Linked DNA regions of Homo sapiens: regions 1, 2 and 4 are each reported to be linked to region 3. The links are microRNA targets in miRTarBase. Many come from high-throughput screens and were not tested one by one. Region 3 holds a microRNA gene; each other region holds the end of a gene's coding sequence.
What was found. Region 3 holds the annotated microRNA hsa-miR-1307-3p (ACUCGGCGUGGCGUCGGUCGUG, at 2,046-2,067, opposite strand). A microRNA usually pairs through its seed, bases 2 to 8, with sites in the 3' UTR of a target mRNA and lowers its output. Matches are read on the target gene's strand: a 7mer-m8 pairs with bases 2 to 8, a 7mer-A1 pairs with bases 2 to 7 and ends in A, and an 8mer does both.

Region 1: miRTarBase lists SF3B5 as a target of hsa-miR-1307-3p. The part of its 3' UTR that is shown has no 7-base or 8-base seed match.
Region 2: miRTarBase lists HS3ST1 as a target of hsa-miR-1307-3p. Seed matches in the 3' UTR shown: 7mer-A1 at 803-809.
Region 4: the mRNA of RAB27A is a reported target of hsa-miR-1307-3p. Seed matches in the 3' UTR shown: 7mer-A1 at 2,624-2,630.

Annotation. Positions count from the first base shown.
Region 1 is chr6:144,090,474-144,095,621 of GRCh38, reverse strand. SF3B5 (splicing factor 3b subunit 5) reads left to right here and starts at 49. Exons shown (of 1, transcript NM_031287.3): 1 at 49-738. The coding sequence starts at 125. The coding sequence ends at 385. RefSeq lists an enhancer at 1-299.
Region 2 is chr4:11,394,741-11,399,892 of GRCh38, forward strand. It overlaps HS3ST1 (heparan sulfate-glucosamine 3-sulfotransferase 1), which reads right to left. Exons shown (of 2, transcript NM_005114.4): 2 at 1-5,152. The coding sequence ends at 4,342. Among named protein-coding and RNA genes, the nearest start is that of MIR572, 28 kb to the left of the region's middle. RefSeq lists an enhancer at 2,045-3,244.
Region 3 is chr10:103,392,256-103,397,406 of GRCh38, forward strand. It overlaps MIR1307 (microRNA 1307), which reads right to left and starts at 2,146; the gene lies at 1,998-2,146. ATP5MK (ATP synthase membrane subunit k) reads right to left here and starts at 4,220. Exons shown (of 5, transcript NM_001206427.2): 1 at 4,154-4,220; 2 at 3,491-3,777; 3 at 116-211; 4 at 1-28. The coding sequence starts at 202. PDCD11 (programmed cell death 11) reads left to right here and starts at 4,371. Exons shown (of 36, transcript NM_014976.2): 1 at 4,371-4,475. RefSeq lists enhancers at 3,483-4,315, 3,708-3,797, 3,948-4,197, 4,855-5,151.
Region 4 is chr15:55,200,958-55,206,109 of GRCh38, reverse strand. It overlaps RAB27A (RAB27A, member RAS oncogene family), which reads left to right. Exons shown (of 7, transcript NM_183235.3): 7 at 405-3,144. The coding sequence ends at 603. Among named protein-coding and RNA genes, the nearest start is that of RSL24D1, 6.6 kb to the right of the region's middle.

The DNA.
Region 1 (5,148 bases), not on the chromosome of region 3:
CCATTCTTCTGCGACGGCGCGGACCTGGAGCTTCCGCGCGGTGGCTTCACTCTCCTGTAAAACGCTAGAGCGGCGAGTTGTTACCTGCGTCCTCTGACCTGAGAGCGAAGGGGAAAGCGGCGAGATGACTGACCGCTACACCATCCATAGCCAGCTGGAGCACCTGCAGTCCAAGTACATCGGCACGGGCCACGCCGACACCACCAAGTGGGAGTGGCTGGTGAACCAACACCGCGACTCGTACTGCTCCTACATGGGCCACTTCGACCTTCTCAACTACTTCGCCATTGCGGAGAATGAGAGCAAAGCGCGAGTCCGCTTCAACTTGATGGAAAAGATGCTTCAGCCTTGTGGACCGCCAGCCGACAAGCCCGAGGAGAACTGAGACTCTGCCTTACCACCGCAGTGCGGGGCACCTCTCCCAGCGTTTCTCCGGTTTGCCAATCCTCTTAAGTATTCCTGTCTCCAAAGGACCGGCTCTCCATGGCTCCTGCGCCTCGTGCTTTCCGCGTACAGAAGTGCTTGCCCGGGGAGTCCCGCCTGACCTGCCTTCATGTGGACCCTTAGAACAGCACTGGGAGACCAGCAGGACTCCTGAGAACTGTGCTGGTGGAGAGGTCCTAGAGCCGGCGAGCGTTTGAGAAGAGGGCATGGCGCTGGAGTGAGATGGGATTTGGCGTCTCGTTTTTGGCTAATTGATTGTCATTGGCTTTTTCCATAAAGTTTAGAAATCGTTCAGTCTCTTGGTGTGAACTTTCTGTGTTAGGGTGGAAGGCTCCGGAAAGAGCTGAGCGGGAAGTGGGTTTGGGTGAGGGAGCGCATGCCAGTGTCCATGGCCAGGCACTTAGATCCGCCGTGTCTACCTTTATAATTAATTCCCCGACTGCCACTTTTCCCAAGAGCGTTATTTTCAGGCCCACAATGCCTTCAGTATTGAAATTTGTGGTTATTGTATCCCATCTTCTTTTTCTCCTGTTTTAAAACTCTTTGCAGTCTTTGCTGTCATTGTCCTCCCTAGCCTCTTTAAAATGCATCCTTTTTTTTTTCTTGGGAATTTGTGGCCATGTCTCCAGAAATGACAAGCTGGCAAGCGAGTTCATCCATTCTACATTCAACAAATATTTGTTGAGCTCTATGTGACAGGCATTTTCCCGTGTTCTTGGGGCTTACATTATGCTGGTGGTGGAGAAAGGAGGTCAAACACTAGATGTAATAAGCAAATGTTAGAAGATGCTGCGGGGAGGGGAGAACAATGTATGTGGTGCGGGTGGGAGTAGCTGGTAGGGCTGTAATCTTAAATATGATGCACAAGTTACTGAGATGGTGACATTTGAGCAAAGACTTCAGGAAAATGAGGGAAATGGCCATGCGGAAAACTGGAGAAATTGCTTTCCATGAAGAGGGAACTGCCAGTGCAATGGTACTAACGCTGGGAGTATGTATGGTTTATTGGAGGAACTTCAAAGAGGCAAGCATGGCTGGAGGGAGTGAGTAAGGGGAAAAGTAGAGGGACAGGTAATGGAGGGGAAAACAGAGTAGAGTCTTGTAGGACAATATATGAACCTCTGAGGAGCCATTGGAAGGTTGTGGTTTTTTTTAATTTTAGTTTTTAAAAACACGAGATGGATCTTGATATGTTGGCCAGGTTGGTCTTGAACTCTTGGCCTCAAGCAGTCCTCCCACTTCAGCTTCCCAAAGTGCTACGATTACAGGTGTGAGCCACCACTGCAGACCATTGGAAGGTTTTTACGCAGAGAAGTCACGTGACCTGGCATAGCTTAGCTCAGTGGTGGCTTTGGAACTCCAGGCTGGAGTGCAGTGGCACGATCATGGCCCACTGCAGCCTCAACTTCCAAGGCTCAAGCAATCCTCCCACCTCAGCCTCCCAAGTAGTTGGTACTACAGGTACGTGCCACCATGCCCGGCTAATTTTTGCATTTCTTAGTTTTTTTGTAGAGATGAGGGTCTCATGTTTCCCGGGCTGCTCTTGAACTCCTGGCTCAAGCAATCCACCCACCTCAGCCTCCCAAAGTGCTGGGATTACAGGGGTGAGTCATTGCTCCTAACTTTTCGTTACACTAGAAAATTGTAGAAGACACCAAAGAGCCTCTGTTTATGTGGATTGTGGCTATTGATATTCACCACCATAGAAATGAAAACAAAAGTTTTAATTCATTGAAAAATAATGAAAATTCTCAGAAAGGTCAATGGTAAAAATAATGATAATAAAACCATTTCATGTTAACAAAAACTTTTTTTGTTTTATGAAAAATGGCAATTTACCAAGACATAATTTAGTGAGAAGAATGGCTTTTAAGAAAAACCGGTTTTTCAGAGGTCTTCTGTGTTTGGCTTAATAGAGGACAGCTTGATTCCCATATTTGCTTTTGCATTCAAACTGTTGGGATATGAAATTTTTGTCGAAGTATGAAAAAATCCACTTCTCATAAATATTTAGTATAGGAGCAATATTTAACTTTTTCAAATAGATGTACATATACTTCTTTGATATTATACTAAAACCCAACAAGTGGTAGTTTCTTAAAGGTTAGTTACAACATGGAATCTGAAACTGGTTTAATGAACTTTTTATTCTGTTCCATTAAAATTCATTCATGTATGTTGAGCTTTGAATGGATCTTTTACCCATACCTGATTTGGAACATCATGCATCAGTCATCTGAAAAGTAATGGGTTACTGAGTTATACAGACCTTCCAAATGTTGTTACATTCATTATACATATCAAAAATCACATTGAGTAATATCATCCCTGTCTCAGGAAGGTTTTATAGTATTGGGAAACTGAAAGACCTACTGTGAAGGTATAAGTTTTCCACAAGTTTAAGTTTTTACTTGATAGCTTGAACTTGATCAAGCTATCAAGCATGAGGTTGATAGCAAATATTATTGTTTTCCTTTAAGTGAAAGGCCCACTTGGTTCATTTTCAAGAAAATGTCTGCCAAATACATACCCAATACATACCCAAGTCTGAGTAACAAGATACAGTTTGTCATTTTTTTCTTGTAAATATGTGCCTTGAGAAAAAAAAAAAAAAGGCAGCCAATTCAATTTGCAACTCAAATAATAAAAAGTGTTTTTCCTTGAGAAAACTATTGTCCTTTGGTAGGCAGCAGAAATGCTTTATGCATATTATGAATTTCATCACACAGAATATTAAAAGACATCTTAAGGGCTAAGATTTCATAAAGTTAGCAATTTTTACTGCTTCATCAAGCACATTCTTAAGTGAAACTGAGGTTTTTTGTTTTTGTTTTTACTGAGGGTGCATGGCAATGAAGTATACAATGACTAGCAATACATTTTTGTGCCCCTCCATTGATTCATGCTAAGTGCTGGTAGTTTTATCACTATTGCTTTTGCACCATCTGTGCAAATGTTAATGGTAAGAAAGGCAAGTAAAATCTTACTTTTATGAAAATAGTTTTGGCTTCAGTTTCCCTGGGATTTCTTTCTTACCATTTTTACTGGAAAGAATGACTATAGGAGATTAAACTATGGTTGTTTACACTTGGGTATCTGGCAGATATTTTATCAAAAATGGATGAAATTGCCGGGCGTGGTGGCTTATGCCTGTAATCCCAGCACTTTGGGAGGCTGAGGCGGGTGGATCACAAGGTCAGGATATTGAGACCATCCTGGCTAACACAGTGAAACCCCATCTCTACTAAAAATACAAAAATTACCTGGGCGTAGCGGCGTGCACCTGTAGCCCCAGCTGCTGGGGAGGCTAAGGCAGGAGAATGGTGTCAACCCGGGAGGCGGAGCTTGCAGTGAGCCGAGATCGTGCCACTGCATTCCAGCCTGGGCGACAGAACGAGACTCCATCTCAAAAAAACAAAAACAAAAACAAAAAAAGAATGAAATGGGCCATCGCTTCAAGAAAAACAGTTGAACTGTGGTTTCAGATGATCCCTCTGGCTGCTGTGTTGAGAACAGACTGGGGTAATGTAAAAGAAAATAGATTGTAATAATTGGCAATTAAATAAAAATGTCAACACTAATTTTTTTTCCTCTTTAAAGAGTAGCAGAGTCAAACTAAGTCACCATCCTTACAAAACTTGATAAAGGTATACAAAGTGTCATTAGAGTGAGCTCCTGTCCCCAATTCAAGGCTGTAGCAGTAGAACAAGAGAGATGACAGCCTGCATTGGAGATAGAGAGGAAAGGACTGGATATATGGTATGGGATAGCATATGTAAAGAAATGAGTAACATGTACAGTAAGAATTTAGAAGGAAGTCAGTAACTTAAAGACCTCCATGAAGAGTGAGGTTTCACAAAGGCAAGGATTTTGGTCTTTTTTACAAACCAATATATCCTAAGTATCTAGAATGATGTCTAACACATCCCAGGTGTCCAATAAATCTTGAGTGTTGAATATCAAAGGACAGGGCTTAATCCAGGTGATATATTGGGCCCATGCTAATTCATGTTCTTAGGCAGTCTTTAACTTTACCATAATAGGTAATACCAAAGAAGAGCCATTTGAAAGCATGTTTCCTATAGTATTAATAACAGCTAACATATTGAGCATTTTTATGGTGTGCTAAGTGTTTTGTGTGATCTTTGGGAGGTACTGTCTTCATTTTGCAAATGAAACAGGTTCAGAAAAGTAATTTGCACAAGATCGCACAACTAGTAACCAGGTTTTTCTAGTTTCGAAGTACAGAGTCTTGTACTGTTGCCCAAGTAGGTCTAGTATACAAAAATAGTATTAGAATAATTTGAAATAAGTTGTCTCAGATTTTTTAAATGGAAATACTAAAAGTTTAGTAGATTATATTGAAAGAATATCAGACCAATATGAAAGATCTCATATAACTCTAAGTAAAAAATGTAATTTGAAATATATTGAATAAAGATTGAAGAAAAATAATCTTAGTAGGCAGCACAATTGTTTTGTGTGGAAACACATTTCAAGTATCTGAAAGTAAAAGTGCCGTCCAAATAAATTTAATTGAGCTATTCTGTTTTTGTTGTTCTCATCTGAGAGAATATTTGTGTCAAACACAGGAGGGCAGCAGATGATACTCAGATGGAAATTACTTTCAGAAAAAGATCTAAACTTGTAGATTCCTGATAACTTCGGAGAAAAATAAGCGGTTCCTATATTTATTTAGAGTGA
Region 2 (5,152 bases), not on the chromosome of region 3:
ACAAAATTTCATTTGTAAGAAGTAATGGCTCTATCAACATGGGCAAGCCCTTTAATTTCTGAGTTTATTTTTCTGTAAAATTAGTAGCCCATTTTCTACTTCCTAGGGTTGTTATATAGGTTAGAAGCAATATATTTAAAATACCAAGCACATGGCAGGTGTGCAACAAATGATAGCTATTTTTATGCAACAGATACACCTGCACAGGAGCCAAATTCACATGGGTGCCTGCTAAGTAAGCTTCCAACACTCCAGCCTTGGAAAGCAGTAGCTTCTCATTGAGTTTAACACATTTGACATGCCACTCAGACAAATCTCTTGCCTACCTCTACCCTCTACCCCCAGCCTCTCCCCGTGACCACTGTCTTCATGTCTCAAGCTTCCCTTGTTCAGAATGCCCTGCTCTGGTGACACTACTGCCATTCGTGCGTGCCCCAGCTTTATGGCAATTCCTCCATGAAGCCTTCCCACAGGAAGGTCAGGGTCTCTGTGGCCCACAAGTTAAGTGACCTGCCCTGACATGCGACCTCTGGGAAGATTCTCTATTTCTTAATATTTCTGAGAAATGACATTCTGGAGAGGGTCTCTGATATTTTTCACCTTCTTTTGTGATTTGTGATGTCAACATTTTCCATTTCTGGACTATTTCCCTGGAGTGAGCAAGAATCCTTTCTTCTGAAAAAAATGACTTGAAGTCAGGATTACTTTTTTATTTTTTTATTATTAATTTATCTTTTTTTTTTTTTTTTTTTTTTGAGATGGAGTCTTGCTCTGTTGCCCAGGCTGGAGTGCAGTGGCATCATCTCGGCCCCCTGCAACCTCCACCTGCCAGGTTCAAGTGGTTCTCTTGCCTCAGTGTCCTGAGTAGCTGGGATTACAGGCACTCGCCACCATGCCTGGCACATTTTTGTATTTTTAGTAGAGATGGGGTTTCACCATGTTGGTCAGGCTGGTCTTGAACTCCTGACCTCGTGATTCACCTGTCTTGGCCTCCCAAAGTGCTGGGATTACAGGCGTGAGCCACTACACCCGGCCAGGACCACTTTTTAAATCTCAGTTTCCTCTTCTCTATAAGGGGGCTAGTTGATTTCTCTCAGGAATGTTGCTGAACTGAATGCCAAACCATGGAACACATTCCCCCACCCATTCTATACACAGCTAAATGTCTTTGCCTTTGTACTCCAAGACCCTCTGTACTTTTATTAAAGTCCAGAACAAACAGTTAATGACTACTGGTTCCTGTTGTATTTTCTTTTTATATTCTTGAGGACTCAATACCATGTTGAGCATGTGGTAGGGGATCAAAAAAGTAAAATTTTAATGAATAATGGTGACCTGTGACACCACCCCTGTAAGCAGCAGGCACGCTAGGCATCGGCCTCTCCTGCCCTCCATCTCCTTTCAGTTGGGTAAGCCTCCAAGCACAGAAGGAGTAAAGCACCCTGTGCTCAGAGGCATGTCACTTTTCCTAAACTTGCAAACCTTCAGGTTGTGAGCTGATAACCAAATGGTGTTAAAAGGATTTCAACCCTATCTGATTCCAGGAGGAAGGGAAAGGGAAGGGGCTGTTCTGACTCTGGAGTGTCAAGTGTGTGAATATTCCAAATCTAATAGCTGAGGCTTGGTTCAGTTGTTCTCACTTGCCTCTCTGGAAGGACCCACCTAGATCCCCCAGGCTGCTCCCGGGCCGGGGTGGTCTGGACAGGAGACCCACCCCTTCCACTGACACCTGTCTCTGTTAATGGAATTGGTAGAAGGCATGTTTTGGAGGGACCGGGTGCTATTAGGCTCCTGAGTCACTGCATTTTGGCCCTGTAAGGACAGCCCAGGGTCTACTACAGGGCCTCCTTTGAATTTGACAGTGCTTGGTGAGATCTAGCAATAAATACCTTGGGTAAGTCTGGAGTGATGGTTTCTTACACAGTGTACCTTCTCAATGACTGGCTGGGGTTGTACCAAAAATGAATGAACAGATAGTGCCACTAGGACCTCTGATCCCTTGCTCATGGTAGACTCATTTGAACATTCCTTTAGCCACGACTCTGCACCCCCAAATGAAAACATATTGAATTTACATTCACTGATCATTTTACACTGGACCACCGCCTCCATCGACTATGCCAGTCCCAGCAGCTAGATTATATTCCATGTGCTGGTCCTGTCTTCCTCCACTCCTCCCCGCTGCCTCTTGCATCCACAGTTCATGCTTCTACCAGACCATCCCTGTCAGGGGACAGGAATTTACAGGCAGTTTGCAAAGAGCATCTTCTTCAGTCAGAGACTCTCATTGCAGTTTCCTTTCAGTCACCATATTCCTGAACAGGCTTGGAAACTTGACTTAACCTTGCTGGGCCCTCTTATTTCTTCAGCTCTTCAAGGAGTATGGTAAAAGCAAGATCCAACGATGTGCTGCAGAGGGAGGCTCTCTGCCTATTGAAAAGTACCATGTCCACCAGGGGCCTGCTGTAAATATTTCTGCTACTTCCTCTGGGGGAGATGATGGCTTAATGACAACTTCAATGGATTCTAAAGAGGAAGGCATCCTCTCTGCTCTCTGTTCATGATATGGGGTGGGGCATAGGCCATGCTAAGGTCAGGTCAGGCTGGAGCTGCTGAAACGTACCAAGGTGACTCACTTCCCTGATAACACTGCTGAGAAAAATGCAGGCTTCTTCTTGCCCTTCCTGTATCTGGGACACACCTCTTAGGATGGAAGATATTTGGCACCTGGGAAGAAATGTTAAGTCAGGTCAGGAAGAACTGGCTCTGAGTCTGGGCTTTTCCTTTTGAGTTCAGAAAGAGTTGGGTAAAAACTAAATACATAAATAACCTGTGCTTTGGCTCTGAGTAGCCTCTAAGCCTGAGTTTATAGTCAATGTGACCTTGGGCAAGTTTCTCATGTTCTCTGGGCCTAATTCCTCCTCTTTGAAATTTCCATAATAATATCTGCATCCTGGGGTTGCTTGGAGAAATTTCAATGAGTTCTTAAGTGTAGGAGATGATTAATAACGTCCATTTCTGTCATTTTCCTGCGGTATAAACCATGTCAGGAAGCCGGTTTATTTTGCTTGTTTGTATTTTCTCTTTTACTGTAATGAATGTTTTATTTTTATTAAAATCCAATGGGTTTAATTCTGTAAAAGGCTGACTGCATGAAGAATGCATGAAAAAACTGAGGATAAGAAGGGTTTATGTGACCATCTCCAACAAGCTGGCTGCTCAGGGGCAGAAGTAAAACTGAACTCCAGCCACTCCTCTGGGGGCAGGTACAGTGGTTCTCTTAGGTGCTACCTTCAACTCTGCCCTTTTCTCTTTTTAACTTCAACACTTGGGAACTTACTTTTTCTTTCACATTCAGGACTCCAAATTTAGAGTTGATTTTGAAACATACACATATTTATGTCTCAGTGCATATGGAATATATGTCTATAATGCCAATGTGTCTTTCAGGAAGTAAGCAGACTTTCAGACTAAGCAAAAGACTACTACCCTTTTAGTCAGCCTTTCACAGAACCGACAGGATGAAGACACGCATAGATTTCGCAGTTTCTCTTTTCTATTCTAATTGGCTTTCTGGAGGCCAGCTGCCACCTGGGGCAAAGTATCCAGGTCCAAGATCATTCTGAAGGCCAAGGGTTTAATCCTCTTTATTATAACTGCTGAGATCAGAAGCATGTGCAAATATTCTTTGAGGTCAAGATGGATCCCAAGAGACCTCTAGCCAGTCACTAACTGCTTCTCCATCCTGAATATTGCTTTGTTTACTTGAAGTTTACACATGGGAATGAGTAAAACTGTGACCTCCAAAAATGACAAGGAATCGCCGAGGAGATAAATCTTACAATCCAAGTAAAAATAAATCTGATGATCACAATGAGACATTAAAAATTAAAAAGAGCAATGCAGAAAGGAGAGGGGAGAGAGAGGATTGTAATAGCCATGAAAAACATGTTTTTTTAAGTAACAAAAGAATTTAGATTTTGCAATGATTGCAACACAGACAGCTATTTTGAGTTGGGGGCAAGTTAATTATATTCAAAAAAACATAGCGTCTCCAGAAAAAATCTTTTTTTTTTTTTCAGTGAAATAGTTTAGTTCCTTCATATAGAGACATATTACACAATGTTAACAACCATGAAAAACAATACAAAATGCCCTCCATTTAACAAGTAGAAAAATATAACTAGTATATATGGCAATTGTGAATCTAATACTGTACAGAAGTACTTTATGGATTTTACAAATAAATTATACCTTAAATGCTTTTTTAAAATTCTTTTTCCCCTCAGATGTACACCAGAACTTACAGTAGGAAAGTTTCTGAGCTTAGCTTATTGCAAATCAGTGCCAGTCAAATGTTCTGCCAACAAGCTCGAAGAACTTCTTATTTGGCTCATGAAAATATTCGTGCAGTTTATTGAGTAGTTTGGGATCGACTTGGGGGTGCGCCCGGCCTTTGGACTCATGTAAGCAGCGGTCCCGGCCGCTGTCCCGCAGGCAGTAAAAGCCCTTGGTTTTGTTAAAGTAGAAGTTCGAAGCATTGATCTGCGGCGACAGCTTTAGGAACCTCTCGACCTTTTGGATCTCAGGGAAGGGGTCCCTGATGAGGCGGTCGCCGTCCACAATGTGGATGTGGCGCAGCGGGAAAAAGCGCAGCCAGTTCTGCATGTGCACGTGGTAGAGGCTGCGGTTGAGGGCCTTGTAGTCCACATTGAGCCTGCCATCGCGCACCAGGAACTCCTCGATGGACGGGTAGGGCTTGTGCTTCTGCATGTGGTTGTAGAACACTTGGGTGTAGTCAGATAGCACGCGCTCCGACGGGTCTCGCAGGATGAGCAGCAGCCGGATGGACGGGTTCATGCTGTAGACTCGCTCAGGCACTTTGGGCGACGTGAAATACGCGGGGGTCTTCTCCACTGTGAGCTGGTGTGGCCAGGAGAAGGGCATCTGGCTGAGGTACCAGCCCAAGCCGTGGCTGTAATGCTCCTCCCAGTCGAAGAAGTGGACCTCGTTCTCCGCGGCCGCCACGTCGGGGTGCAGGCTGAGCATCTCCAGCAGTGCGCGCGTGCCGCCCTTGCGCACGCCGATGATGATGGTCTGCGGCAACTGCTGGGCAGAGCCGTTTGGGGCCACGCCATCGCGGACGTCATCC
Region 3 (5,151 bases):
CAATGCTTCCATATGTGGCCAGTACACACTGAGAAAGAAAGAAAAAAGTAAACAAGACTTGTTGTTCCATCTATATTATTTTAAAATATAACTGCTTAAAGTTATCAATACTTACGTTCATTCTACCTGTGAGAGTATAAGAGTTGAAATATTTTTTAATACCAGTGAACTGGTATTGCGCATCACTTTCTGGACCTGCCATGATTTCAATCTTTTAAAAAAAGAAAGAAAGCAACATTAAATTGGTTTGGATGTAATTTAAAAGTAAATAAATTTTGTCTTGTTTTAGTCTAAAAACTCAAGGTCACTGCATATAAATACTGTAAATTTTTATCTATATCTCACCCAACACAGTAGTAGCAAAGATGGTGGAAAAAGCCTTCCTGAAAGAAAAGCTTTTGGAAGTAGGATTTTACCTTGATCGCTATTTCATGAACACCTCAGAATACATCAAATCACACAATAGCCCCTGCTAAGTTCATTCTCTGACCCAATACAGCTTAATATTTTCATTCCTGGCTCCATCACACCACAGTCCATTGAATTAATCCATTTTAAGGCTACTCAAAAATTGGAGCTGGTATTTTTCAAACATTCAACGGGTGACCATCAACTAAACAGCTCAATTACAACCCCTACTTATACAATTTTTCTTGTTATAAGTAATTTAGGACCTCCATGGGAGAAGGGAGAAGGGATAATTTATTAAATGGAGTTAATAATAGCTACTGGTGGTAGTAAGGAAGCTGGAATCCTTGCACCACCACCAAAATAGATAAAAGATTTAAATGTAAATAGTGAAACCAAAAAGTCCTGGAAGAAAACATGGGGAAATATTTAAGTCATCTCAGGGAAGGGAAAATATTAAGAAAAAAAGCCAAAAACCAAAAAAAACATAAAACCTATTAGTCAAAGAAATGTAAAATGAGATCAATATTTAATCATCAAACAAGCAAAAATAAAATTATGGTAAGTAGTAGTATTAAGTATGTGAGAAAACTAAGAATTCTCTCTCTGTTGCTTGGAGTATAAACTGGTAAAACCAGCCTGGCACGGTGGCTCATGCCTGTAATCCCAGCACTTTGGGAGGCCAAGGCGGGTGGATGCGAGGTCAGGAGATCGAGACCATCCTGGCTAACACGGTGAAACCCTGTCTCTACTAAAAATACAAAAAATTAGCCGGGCGTGGTGGTGGGCGCCTGTAGTCCCAGCTACTCGGGAGGCTGAGGCAGGAGAATGGCATGAACCTGGGAGGCGGAGCTTGCAGTGAGCCTAGATTGCGCCACTGCACTCCAGCCTGGGCGACAGAGCGAGACGCCGTCTCAAAAAAAAAAAAAATAAATAAATAAAAAATAAATAAACTGGTACAACCTTCAGAAAGTGCAAGTTGGCAGTATCTTATCGAATTATAAAATGAGTATACCCTTTCATCTAGCTGGTGTTTTTCTCCAGGAATTTACCCTTATTGAAATATTACAAAGTGGAAACACATTGTGTGGTTCAAAGATGGTCAATGAAATACTGTTTATGAAAATCTTAAAAGTCCATCTATAGAAGACTGATTAAAAAATGATGGTTTCCATTAAACGACACACAACAGGCACAGATCTTTGTGTACTGACATGGGAAGATGTCCCAAGTAACGTTCAATTTTGTAAGAAAAAATCTTATTTCTGGATTTTATAAAGCACGTCAATGGTTCTGGGTCTTGTCCCTAGACCAGCAGCATTAGCATCACTGGAAACTTGTTAGTGCAAATTCTTAGGCCCTACCTATTGAATCAGAAACTCTGGGTCCAGGAATCTATTTTAATAAGGCTTCTAGATAATTCTAAAGCATGCTAAAGTTTGAAAAATACTGCAGTAAATGAAATAGAAAAATAGTAAGTGTATTAAAAAAAACTCTGGAAGAATATATAGCAAAGGCAGCTTAATCTATAGTACCTGTGTATTTTACAAAGGCATGAATTTCTTTTATAGACAAGACGTATTCAAAAGGTCACCAGAACAAGAGCTGAAAATTCGTATGCATGACCGCCTATCTACCACGACCGACGCCACGCCGAGTCGATTGGCAACACAGACGAGCCGGTCGAGGTCCGGTCGAGATTGGTAGGCAGTGACAGTGACTCAGCTGGGTCTTGATGAAATGGAAGAGGGAGATATCTGTCAGGGAGTCATTACTATGGAAACTGGAACTCCCCCATTCAAAGGCTTTCAGAGGCATTCTTGTGTAAAGAATTGGCAATGAAAATTTGAGAAAAATGACCTTAATTTTCAAGTTTCAAGAAGGTTCTTGGAGCAATGAAGGAAATCCAAACTTCCTTAGGCCTCTTCAGAGACCTTGGCCAGTCTAGCCCAAGTAGGAAAATCTCCATTAAAAATAACTTTATACACTTGATCTTAGCCAACAGAAGCGATAAAAGCAACTTTATAATGTAGCTATCAACTGTTCCACTTTACTAAACTTACTAAAGACATACTTCCCCCCGCCCCCCGCCCCCCCACCAGCTCCATTCATTTCATGATACATTTTTGGATTCACTTCTTAGGGTTTGAAGTAGGTTTTTAGGAGAAACGCTACAGAAAATAAGGGCTTCACTTTGACCATTAACGAAAACCTCCACTACATTACATCTAACTAAACTTTTTAGGAGGATATGCCCAACAATACTACAGCGCTTTAAATTTCCCTTTAATTTACACACAATATGGGAGGAAGGCTGATGTTTTGTGATATCCCACAGAAGACTAATTCTGATTGCAGGGAAGTGCATGGTTCAAGAACTGAAATCAATCACTCAAGTTAGTCTGGGTCTTAAAGGAGGAGGACTCTTGAGAGGCTCAAATGGAGGGCCAAATGGGGAACGGGATTGTTGCTGGTGAGATAATGGAGTAAGGTCGAAAAATTTGGTTCTGCACTCTTCAGCACGGTGCAGGTTACTTTAGGGCAAAGATAAAGGAACCCTTGTGTTTACAGTGCCCTTTGTAAGACTCCTAGTTGTGATTTAATGTTGTTAAACGGTGGTATGTTTTAATTAAGTTGCTAACTGCCCTTCTTGAGACAAGGTCTCGCTCTGTCGTCCAGGCTGGAGTGCAGTGGCGCGATCTCAGCTCACTGCAATCTCCGCTTCCCGGGGTCAAGCGGTTCTCCTGCCTCAGCCTCCCGAGTAGCTGGAACTACAGGCGCGCGCCACCACGCCCGGCTAATTTTTGTATTGTTGGTAGGGACGGGGTTTCACCATACTACTCAGGCTGGTCTCGAACTCTGGACCTCAGGTGATCTACCCGCCTCGGCCTCCCAAAGTGCTGGGATTACAGGCGTGAGCCACCGCGCCCGGCCACTAACTGCTCTTAAATGTAACTAATCCTTCCGTGCCTCTCTCCACCTGTGAGATGGGCACTTTATTAAAGGTCCAAAGTGACCAGTAGCTCTTGTTACTTTCTCTGTTCCTCGATATTGCTATTTTCCTTTCTAACTTAACACCTACCTGGAATGGTGAGATCACGAGGTAAGGAAGGCAAAGATGAGTGAGAACCACTCAGGTAACAGAAGCAGCCTCTTGCATTCACGGAGTTTACAGCTCTCTGTTCTGGTTACCTCCTAGGAAAGGCCTTCCCACTGATCGTCTATAGACTGAAATCTAACCCTTTTACAGCGGGCCTGGCGAACTGTAGGGGCCGGGCCACATTCACTCGCTTTGAAAAAGGCTGCAGCGCACCTAAAGGAGGCCCGGCTGGCCAGCTTCCTAAAGCACAGCTCGGTGGGAACAAACAGCTATGGACATACAGAAGAAAAGAGGTTAATTCGGCCGGTGATGGGGATCAGAAGCCCTAGTCCTCGTCCAATATTACGTCACTGGGTGACCTCGAGGGACGCTTCGCGGAGGGCCTCATTTTTCTCCACTGGCGAATGCAATCTAAGGGTCTTCGGAAACTGTGGGAGCCCTTGGGCGCACCTATCCGCCTCACCTCGAGGCTTCTCACCCGCTGGCCGCCCCCTTGCGCCCCTCGTTTTTTCTAGCTCCTTTCCCATTCCCCACCGTTTCTCTCCTCCAAAGCTAAGAACTCGAGTTGCTCCTCGGCCAGAAACGGCGGGCGGTCCTGCAACGTGCAGGCGCCAGGTCCAAGCCCGGACTCCCCTCTTCACCCACCTGCCAAAGCCGCAAATTCCGCAGCTGGTGTCCTTCAACGAATGTAACCACCTCTCGGCCCGGCCGGAAGAAGCCACCTCCCCCGCACGCGTTTAGCCGGCCCCCGCGATTCGGCCTAATGCGACGATTGGCTATGGCTCCAAATCCCGCCCTTCCGATTCCTGTCTCTAGGTCACCTCCGCAACACAGCAACGGAAGTAGGGTGTTGAGCCCGCCCACACTTCCGGAAGAATTGCACTGGACTGTGGGTATCCTGGTCTCCGCGTGTGTGAGTACCGCGGCGCGAGGTTAGTGGTAGCTGGGTGCAGACGCCGTGGCGCTGGTGAGTAAAGGCAGAGGCGAAAAAGGAGGAAACCTCATGGCTGTCAGGTCTGTCCCAGGCCTGGTTCCCTGCCAGGCACACGCTAGATGAGTGTGGTTCGGCCACCTTAGCCCCGCTTCGAAGCCGGCTCTGTTGTAGCAGCCCCTGTAACCCCAGGCTTTGTGTTCGGAAAGTAGCCTAAGTATCTTCTGTGCCCCTGGATCGCCTTACTTTTCAGAGCCTCAGTTTCCCCTTGCTTGAAAGGAAATTAAGGGTGAAATTATCAGCAAACTAGACCCCCCAAACTTTCCTGTTTCTATGAATCATATACCCATCCCTGATTCCATATCCTTGGCCCCACCCGGTCATCACTTCTTTAGTCTAAAGCCCTTGTAGAGTCTTATTACCAAGTGTCTGTCAGAACTAACCTCTCCTGTCTTCTGTTTTCACTTATACCCAGTTCTGGTTCTCATGGTTTCTCTGCTGTACTGCATTTGAATCCTTTTTTTTTTTTTTTTTTTCTGTCACTGAGATAACAGGAAACAGTGCATTTGAATCCTTCTACCGAATTTACTTGCCTTCAATACTGTCTCTCTTCATGTCCAATCTATAGCCTGCAGTATATTTTTCTTGCTTACTGTTCTCTCGCTTTCCCTGCTTAAGTCTCTGACTTGCCAAAGCAAACTACCCATATCTA
Region 4 (5,152 bases), not on the chromosome of region 3:
CCTCCCCAGTAGCTGGGATTACAGGTGTATGCCACCATTCCTGGCTAATTTTTGTATTTTTTGTAGAGATGGGGTTTCCGCATGTTGGCCAGGCTGGTCTTAAACTCCTGACCTCAGGTGATCTGCCCACCTGAGCCTCCCAGAGTGCTGGGAGGTGTGAGCCACTGCGCCCAGCCAAAAATTGATATTTTGAAGAGTCTAAAATTTCCAGTTTTGCATATCTACTGGAAATGCAGTGTGAGTATTTTATTGTCTTTTTAACTTTTTAATGTACTCTGGGGTGGTAAAATGTTTGTCATCTTGTATATTTGTATTCTATCGATTCTCTAATTTGAATTATCAAGAGCAAAGGTCACTCTCCTTTCCCTCCACATGTTGTTACCTCAGTTGTCTCTGTCTTCCAGAATCCCCTACTTTGAAACTAGTGCTGCCAATGGGACAAACATAAGCCAAGCAATTGAGATGCTTCTGGACCTGATAATGAAGCGAATGGAACGGTGTGTGGACAAGTCCTGGATTCCTGAAGGAGTGGTGCGATCAAATGGTCATGCCTCTACGGATCAGTTAAGTGAAGAAAAGGAGAAAGGGGCATGTGGCTGTTGAGAAGTCAAGTAAGCGACATAGTAGTTCAGGTGGCCCATGCCTGGGATCTTCTCTATGATTGATACATGGCACAGTGAGAGATTAATGGGCATTGTGTACAAATTGCTTCTCACCATCCCCATTAGACCTACGAATAAAGCATCCGGTTCTAAAATTAATTTGTTGCAGCTTTGTAAATATTTCTTTAAGATTCAGCCTGAGAGTTAGGAGAAATATTTCAGAGCCAAAAGTGCCTTATACAACCTTAGCCTATTATAGTAAATCATTCAAGGATTCAGAATTTTGCAGTCACAGAAGAGTGTATTTATTATGTAGAATGAATGAGGGTACTGTCACCTGCCTTAATGTAGGTAGGCCCAGAGTCTTACATTTAAGATCTTACATGCAGTTATAAAACCGCCACAGTCTTCAATCCAGATTTGAAGACTCATGCCATAGGTGACATTCTAAAATACCATTAAAGCCACTTAAATGTTAAATAAGAATATACATGCACATCAGCTCAATGTCTTTGAGTATTAATTTTATGTAAGCATTCTATTTAACATGAATATAGGACAAATCATGGCTATATCTATAGACCTTGGATAAACTGGATTGACCAATTATACACTCACGGTGACTTTTTTATTGGTGGGAAGGGGATTGGGGTGGGGCAGGCTGGCTTAATGTAATATGAGCAACCAAAGTGGGACTTCTGTCTCCCCGCTATATTCCCATTGCTCTGAATGGTTGATTGAAGGGTCAGGGAACTAGATTTTATGGCTTTAGTTCACTGTGATTGTACATTTATACTTGGCCTATGTGCTGGCCGCACCTGAACATAGCTGGTGCTTATGCCGAGTTATTTGCGATGAGTAAATATTTAGTTTCTTTTTCTTCATATTTATAATGTTGATCTGGCATCCTCAGGCTGCAGCTTTATTAGCTTATAACTTACTCATCTCTATCTTTACCAGCAGGCTCTGTATTGTTGATATTTGCAACTTGTTTTGCTTTTCCATTGGTGGAATTGAAATAATTAGTTTTTAATTACATAAGATGCCTGTTTGCTATTTGGTGGAAGATAGATGTTCATATTGAAGCAGTCACATTTGTACTGTAGTTCAATAAAAGAAAAATGAAGTATTCTGTAGCCTATATTTTTCATAGAGCTCATGAGCATTTACTGTACTTGCTGGGTCTTGCCAAGATCATTTATTCCGCTGCATTGCCAAAGTGTCTTCATACCAAATTAAAGGTGGTTTTAATATATGTTTCATGGAAGTTGTTTATAAAATTCAAAGGTATTTCATTTAGGTGAAAAGTCTTATTTATTAAAGTGGTTTGAATAAAGTAGATCAAAACTTCCAGAGATCTTAATGGCTATATAGGAAGAAATATCACTCACCATAATTTAAATAAAGAATAAAAATACTTGTATTTTGTGGTGGCAAATGTTTGGTAGAACTGTAATTAGAAAAATACAAGTATATTTGCGTGATGGTTACACTAGAAGCCCAGACTTTACGACTACACAATATATTCATGTATCTAAACTGTACTTGTACCCCCTAAATTTATTTTTAAAAAAGGAAAAATAAAAGTATCATGAAAAAACCTATTTTTTTTTCCACTGTCCTTCCACTACTCCCATAACAAACTTATCCATGGTTGGTAAAATTTTACATATTTCTATCCTTGAAATGAAGGCTTCTTTTAAATTCCAAAGAAGTCATGGAGGCCTGTGCATTTGAATTGTATATGCTAGTGAGGAAAAGATTTAGACATTTCAAGAGCAGGGTTGGCCAGGCGCGGTGGCTCACACCTGTAATCCCAGCACTTTGGGAGGCCGAGGAGGGCGGATCACGAGGTCAGGAGATCGAGACCATCCTGGCTAACACAGTGAAACCCCATCTCTACTAAAAAAAAAAAAAAAAAAAAAATGGGCTGGGCGTGGTGGTGGGCACCTGTAGTCCCAGCTACTCAGGAGGCTGAGGCAGGAGAATGGCGTGAACCTGGGAGGCGGAGCTTGCAGTGAGCCGAGATTGCGCCACTGCACTCCAGCCTGGGCGACAGAGGAGACTCTGTCTCAAAAAAAAAAAAAAAAAAAAAGAGCAGGGTCATAATCACACAGCAGTGCCTTATATAGTTGCCATAAGACTTCAGTGCAGTACAACATAATTTTACAGCTACATATCAGGGCATATTCTATATGGTGTATTTGTGTTAGAATAACACATTAAATGTCTTTAAACATAAAAATAAGAATGTTTGCATGTTTCAGTTTTCAAGAACCAAATGAGTAATTAGCTATAGATTCCACTGGCCTTAAACATACAATTAAGTGTATACATGATATAGTGCACACACAAAAGCCACCTTTAATTATTGAAATAACCTGTATTCTTTTTGGAAATCATTTAAGTTTGGTATTGAAGTACTATATTTTTTGTGCATCAATGTATTTTTCTATTTACAAGCCTATGTAAAAGTGAAGTGTATCTTCAGTGAACCATGTGCCAATTAAGCTGTAATAAAAAAGTGGTCTAGTCTGTCAAATTTGTGTGTGAACGTAACTGTATTTATTATCACAAAGTTTCATACCAGAGGTTGTAATGCCAAAGGAAATGAAATTCAGGGATACACGTTCCATTAGGTGCTCACTGAGGGGCCAGCCAAGACAACATATTCTGGAAAAGTAATTAAAAATGTTATCAGGTTGGGCGCAGTGGCTCACGCCTGTAATCCCAGCACTTTGGGAGGCCGAGGCAGGCAGATCACCTGAGGTTGAGAGTTTGAGACCAGCCTGACAAACATGGAGAAACCCCATCTCTACTAAAAATACAAAATTAGCTGGGCGTGGTGGCGCATGACTGTAACCCCAGCTACTTGGGAGGCTGAGGCAGGAGAATCGCTTGAACCCAGGAGGCGGAGGTTGCACTCCAGCCTGGGCAACAAGAGCAAAACTCTGTCTCAAAAAAAAAAAAAAAGTTATCAAACATATATTGAGCACCTATATTTGGGAAGTGTTGTAGTAGACAATCTCAGATAAACAAAACAAGGATGATTGAGGCCTGAACTAAGATCATGCAGGGCTGAGAGATGATGCAAGAGACACTGGGGAGGGTACAGTCATGGACTGGATGAGGAGGGTATATGTGGAGAGATGGCTTCTCTGACCTTCTGACCTTATTTCTTACCACTGTCCAACTCACTCTTCTCAGGCACACTGGCCTCCTTGGAGCAGTCAAGCATGTTCCTGCCTCAGATCTCTTGCATTTGCAGTTCCCTCTGTCTGGAATGCTAGTGTTCCATGTATACCTCTCCTATCCTTTAAGACTGTTCAAATGCCACTTTGTCCAAAGAACTTTACTGACCACCTTATATAAAAGAGCAGTCACTCCCATTCATGGCCCCAACCAGATTGTCACTCCTTGACCTGTTGTTCTGCTTTGCGTTTCTTCATATCACTCAATGTAAATATTTCACCACCTGATGTATTTACAATTATTCTTAGCCAAGAGGCTGACAAGTGATTCACTTGACATATTTATATATTTGTCTACATCCACTAAGATACAAGCTCCACAAACAAGGACAGGGATTTAGGTAGTTTTCTTCAAAACTGTTACCGTCACTCAGAAAAAGGCCTGGTACACAATAGGTACTCAAATTTTTGTTAATTGACTGAGTAAAGGACTTAAAGAGGCAGCAGGGTCAAGAGAGTTTTCAAAAGAGGCCACTGTTAATGTTAAAAGACAGAAAAACGCAATTTGAAAATAAAAACAGCGTTAAAAATGTTTAAAAAGGTTCACATATAGTAAGTCCATACTAATTCATTGCAAGAAATCAAGAAATCTAGGCCAGGTGTGGTGGCTCATGCTTGTAATCCCAGCACTTTGGGAGCTGAAGTGGGTAGATCACCTGAGATCAGGAGTTGGAGACCAGCCTGGCCAACATGGTAAAACCCAGTCTCTACTAAAAATGCAAAATTAGCTGGGCGTGGTGGTTCATTCCTGTAATCCCAGCTACTGGGGAGGCTGAGGCAGGAGAATCGCTTGAACCCGGGAGGCAGAGGTTGCAATGAGCCGAGATCACGCCACTGAACTCCAGCCTGGGTGACGAAGCAAGACTTCATCTCAAAAAAAAAAAAAAATTAAGAAATCTGAGAGATAATTTCTGATCTTTTGAAGTTGATGTCAAGATGGCTAACAATCTATTTAAGACATGTTTCACTTGGTATTTTTATAAATTGGAAATCTCTATGGTGGTATTTCCAGCTCTTCTGTTATTGGTAATATAGGTATTTATAAAACTAATAAGCTCTTCCATTATAAGATACTTAGATAATGCTGGATAAAGTATGAACATATTTTTTAAAAATGTACCGATGATTTCTCAAAAAAATATGGGCAATGCCCTAAGACCACCTCCTTCCCCTTAAAAACAGACAACAGATGGAACTTAAAACAACCTGATGCTGATTGTGGTTTGCTTTTGGTTTGGTTTTGCCAGTATCGGTAATCAGGATGCTTTGTTATAATGGCTACAAAGAATTAGTAAAGAA